2 separate regions of the Homo sapiens genome follow, and region 2 is linked to region 1. A link means that fine-mapping ties the variant in region 1 to the expression of a gene that starts in the linked region. Tissue or cell type: whole blood. Region 1 holds a variant in brackets; the other region holds the start of a gene. All regions are shown on one strand. Distances are from middle to middle.

The links. PIP is the estimated chance that this variant, and not a neighbour inherited with it, causes the effect.
Region 2: LRIG1 starts here. The variant in region 1 is fine-mapped to the expression of LRIG1 in whole blood (INTERVAL, PIP 0.95).

What each region holds. Positions count from the first base shown.
Region 1 is chr3:66,303,750-66,306,432 of GRCh38, forward strand. All of the region lies in intron 5 of SLC25A26 (solute carrier family 25 member 26), which reads left to right. Among named protein-coding and RNA genes, the nearest start is that of SLC25A26, 84 kb to the left of the region's middle. The variant A/G (reference allele first, on the strand shown) is at 1,221.
Region 2 is chr3:66,499,807-66,502,489 of GRCh38, forward strand. LRIG1 (leucine rich repeats and immunoglobulin like domains 1) reads right to left here and starts at 1,216. Exons shown (of 19, transcript NM_015541.3): 1 at 384-1,216. The coding sequence starts at 601. RefSeq lists enhancers at 312-812, 813-1,313 and silencers at 416-625, 646-725, 766-905, 926-1,585.

The sequences.
Region 1 (2,683 bases):
GTCTGAGGACCGCGTGGCTGAGTTCTCCATTCACTGTTTCACACAGTGACAGTCAAGGTGTTGCAGGGACTGTGATCTCATCTGAGGCTAGGGTCCTCTTCCAAATGCACAGGGCGGTTGGCAGATGGCATTTCCTTGTGGCAGTATGACTGAGGATCCTGTTTCTTGTTAGCGATTGGATGGTGACCACACTTTACTTCCAGAGGCTGCTCTGAGGTCCTTGCCATGTGGCCCCCTCCATAGGCCCTTTTACAACATGAAATTTTATTTCTTCAGAGCCAGCAGGAGAATCTCTCACACTTCAGATCTTGTTAGGAAGGGGCTGGTTTTTCTAAGAACTCACCTTTGAAGTCAAGCCCATCCACGATAATTTCCCTCTTGATAAACTCAGAACCAACTGATGGGGGAACTTAATTAAATCTGCAGAATCCATTCATATTTCTGATTAAATGTAACTTCGTCACAGGACTTGTCTTTGTCCTGTTCACGGTCCCATCCACACTGGATGGGGGAGGATTATACAGGGCGGGTACATCAGGGAGTGGGAATCTTGGGGGCCTCCCACAATGCCTCTTGATTTAAAAAGATTCTGGAGCATACTTTTTCTTATGTCTCATATCTAAGCTAATATCTTCCCTTTTCTGTTCAGTTTCAGTTTTGTGTTCACATGTCTGTTGTCATATTTTTTCTTCTATTTTTGCAGGAGGAGGATTAGAGTCAAAGGTGTGGGGAGGCTTGTGAGCTTCTGTGAGTTGTTGTGTGTGGCTTGTATACATGCTGTTATACTGGTAAGCTCTGTAACAACCCCTGATTGCTGAACATGCTAACTGGGATATACGCTACATGGTTCACTGGTGCTTTCAGGAAACCATCGAGGTGTCAGGCATTGAGGATTCGTTGTTCACTAATACATTCTTTAAAATGCTTTTAGAATCATTATATCCAGTTTCCTTTCTCTCTGTACATGGGACTGATTAACCACCATGTGGGTGGAAATCTAATTTGTTGCTGGCTCAGAACTTTGCAATTTTCAATACTTTGCAGAATTATCCTGTTTACCAAATGAATTGTGATAAAAATTGATACATTAGTATTAAGAGGATGACTTATAACATGTACTATGATTTATAGGGCCAAAAAGACCTGATAAACTCACAACCATTTTACCCCATAATGTTAAGAAACTCAAAAGATTTTGTCACCAAAAAGTGTATCTTGTG[A/G]TTTATTTTTTATGACACGGTAGTATCACTTGTTAGAGTTCTGAGATTCTTTATTAGCAACTGACAGTTTTCTAGGAACTGAATTTTTACACTTAGAGCTGCGAAAAGCCAAAAGCATTTCTAAATGATCTCCATCCCATTCCCCTCAAATAATAATGTACACGCTCATTATAGTTTGTTAGTTTCTCATGCCTTTCTTTGGTGTTCTCATGGTTGTGAGAAGTTGGGAGAAGCAGCGTCTAAATTTAGGAAATGGATTTCTTTTCTGTTACTAAGTACATTGCTATAATTTAAAGACAACAGGAGAACATGTCTTTTATCTCAAATGGGTCTGCTATTTTTCTTCTAAGGTGTTTCTCTAAGAGTAACATTATGTAATTTAATCAGTGTTATAAAAAATGGAATTCCTGGTTAGGATTTTAAAAGGTGATGTTAACAGATATCAAATTTTTTATATTAGGGATTGAAGGACTTTTATTTATTTATTTCATTTTAATTTTTAAGCTCCAGGATACATATGTAGGATATGCAGCTTTGTTACATAGGTAAATATGTGCTATGGTGGTTTGCTGCACCTGTCAACCCATCACCTTGGTATTAAGCCCAGCATGCATTAGCCATCTTTCCTAATGCTCCCCTTCCCCCCACCCCACCCTGTGAAAGGCCCCAGAGTGTGTTGTTTCCCTCCCTGTGTCCATGTGTTCTCATTGTTCACTTACAAGTGAGAGCATGTGGTATTTGGTTTGGGTTGATTCCTTGTCTTTGCTATTGTGAATAGTGCTGCAGTGAACATACATGTGCGTGTGTCTTTGTAATATAATGATTTATATTCCTTTGAGCATATACCCTGTAATGGGATTGCTGGGTCAAATGGTATTTCTGGTTCTTGCTCTTTGAGGAATTGCCACCCCATCTTCCACAATGGTTGAACTAATTTACATTTTCACCAATAGCGTAAAAGCATTCCTGTCTTTCCTCAACCTCGCCAGCATCTATTGTTTCTTTCTTTTTTTCTTTTTCTTTTCTTTTTTTTGAGATGGAGTCTCGCTCTGTTGCCTAGGCTGGAGTGCAGTGGCACTAACATGACTCACTTTAACCTCTGCCTGCCAATTTCAAGCAGTTCTCCTGCGTCAGCCTCCCGAGTAGCTGGGACTACAGGTGTGCACCACCATGCCCAGCTAATTTTTTGTTTAGTAGAAACAAGGTTTCACCATGCTGGCCAGGCTGGTTTCAAACTCCTGACCTCGTGATTCACCCACCTTGGCCTCCCAAAGTGCTAGGATTACAGGCGTAAGCCACTGCGCCTGGTCTGTTTCTTAACTTTGTAATAATTGCCATTGTGAATGGCGTGAGACGGTATCTCATTGTGGTTTTGATTTTCATTTCTCTAATCAGTGATGTTGAGCTTTTTTTTCTTATGTTTGTTGGCTGCATGAATGTCTTCTTTTGAGAAGTGTCTTTTC
Region 2 (2,683 bases), 200 kb after region 1:
TCTTCACACTCTTCTCCAGACGTTTCCCACCCACCCACCCGCAAACACACTCAGCTCCAGACTCCCACTCACTCACCCCCAGATGGCCCGCACGACGCGTGCTGGCTAACCCCCAAATCTCTACGACCCACGCTCGCTCGTCTCCAGACCCCACGAGGCACGCTCTTCTTCTCCAGGCTCTCTCGCACGCCTACTCCCCCGGACCTCCACGCAGAATCTCCCTTCCGCCACTCCAACCTGACAGTCTTCCAACACGCACAAGCACGCACAACTCCACACACACAACCCAGTCCGCACCCCCTCCCTGAGTACGAACCCCCGCCGCTCCATCCCCAAGTGACAGAGCCCCGGGGCGCAGAGAGGGCGGAAAGGGCGGCACTCACAGGCTCCGCGTCCAGGAGGGCAGGTCCCCGGGCAACGCAGCCAGCCCGCGCCCACCGCAGTCCAGCGAGTCCCCAGCGCAAGTGCAGGCGGCCGCGCAGGGCGCCCGCGGGCCGGCCGCGGCGGTCACCGGCTCCAGCCGAAGCAAAAGCAGCCAGAGAAGGAGAAGGCAAGGCGAGCGGCGCGGGGCCCCGAGCCCTCCCCGGACCGGCCGCGCCATCTTGTCTGGAGCGCGCTGCGAACTCCGGGCGCGGGGACTGTGAGGACCCGAACGGCCGCAGACGCGGGCGGGCCCGCGGGGCGCTCCGCTCGGCTCTAGACTCCGCACCGGGGCATGGCCCCCGCCCCAAGTTCTCTCTGCGGCCGCGGCTCCGGCACTCAGCGTGCCCCCGGTGCCCGGGCCGCTCCGGAGCACCCGGCGGGGGCCGCAAACCCCGCGCCCATCCGGGCCGGCCGGCCCGCCCGCGCTAGCTGCGAACTCCGCCGATTCGGGCAAGGTGTACCCAGCCTGCGCTCTTCGTCCGCCCGGGGCACGCCGAGTGCCGCTACCGACACCGGCCGAGGGCAGTGCTGCCGCTGCGCCTGGAAGACAGGCGTTCAGCCCCGCAGCCCGAGCTCGGTGCCGGCAGGCATCTTCCTCTGGGCTCGGAGCGCAAAGCCGTAGACCTCGGGCTGGACGGCGCGGCCGGCCCCGCGCTGGGAGGCCCCAGTGCGCCTCGCTGTCCCCACGCCGCGGCCAGAGAGCGCGCGCGCGCGCGCAGCCTCGGGTTCCGCACGGCTCCTCCGCGCAGCAAGAGTCCCGCCGACCTCGCAGCCGAACAATCAGCCGCTTGCTGTTCGCCTCCCCGCGGCCCAGCCCCGGCCGGTCCCCCAAGCCCCGCCCCCGGCCGCTCGCCCGCACACACCCCCTAGGCTCCGCGCTCCGCGGCCGCCTGCTGGCCCACGTTGGATGCTTTGCAACAGCGCCCCGCCACGCCTCCCCGCCTGCTGCTCATTGGCTGCCGGAGTCCACCGTGGCCAGCCTCGAGGGCCATTGGAGCGCTCGCTGTGATCCCGCCCCTCCCGCTTCACCGGCTACCCCGCCCCCACACTCTTTTCCCACCCAAGGTGTGAAGGGCGGGAGACTGGGAGGAGAAAGGGAGGGACGGCCCCCGCCTCTTAAAGGAGACACGCAGGTTGTTGTTGGAGAACGGGAACGCGGGCTGGGGAAAGGAGGCGTGAAGATACGCCCTCTGCGTCAAGAAGGGGAGAGAAAGTTAAGAGGGTAAAACGCCCCCGTTTTGGGGCTGTCTGGCCCCAAGGCTTTTTACGTCCTCCTCAGGCTGCAAGCAGGACTGCAGATTAGAAGCAAACCCGCGTCCGTTTTCCAGGTTCCTTCCAAAAGCGAAGACACAGGTTTAAAACTTAACACATTTCTTCCTGACTGGGACATCCTTGGTTATTTCATTAGGCGTGGTCCCCTTCCTCCTCGAGCAGCCTGGAGCATCTGCTCCTGACTTGTTCTTCACGTCCTAAATCCAGCAATATGTCCTTGATTACTAAAATGAATGTGTGCTGCAGAAACCTAGTCTCAAAGGTGCACCCTCGGCCAGGAGTGGTGGCTCACGCCTGTAATCCCAGCAGTTTGGCAGGCCAAGGCGGGCGGATCACCTGAGGTCAGGAATTCGAGACCAGCCTGGCCAACATGGTAAAACCCCGTCTGTACTAAAAATGAAAAATAAAAAAATTAGCCAGGTGTGGTGGTGCACACCTGTAATACCAGCTACGGGAGGCTGGGACAGGAGAGCTGCTTGAACCCCGGAGGCGGAGGCTGCAATGAGCAGAGACTTGTCACTGAATTGTCACTGAATTCCAGCCTGGGTGACAGAGCGAAACTCCGTCTCAAAAAAAAAAAAAAGTGCACTCTCCTTCCCAGCTAGTGAGTTGAAGGGTACTTCTAGAAATGCTGCAGCCTTTGATAAAGGGGTTGCTTTGTTGTTGTCATTGGGTTTTTGTTTTAATCAGAGTCTTTTTAAGATAATTTTCAAGAAGCCATTGTGTATTCGTAAGAGACAGAGTTAAAGGAGAAATAATAGTTAACAAAGCTTCTAACTTTTGCTCTTAAAGATCAGACCATAGTAGTAGTGTGTTACGATAGTACGTGGTAACATTAAGCAGACATACACACATTGAGAAAAAAAGAAAAAGATTACCACTGTAACATATAGCTGCCCTCTGGGCGTTTTGGTTTGCTAGTGTCTCATATCCCTTCCCAAGAGTATGCAAATTACTAACATAACTGCGCACATTGTCAGGAAGATTA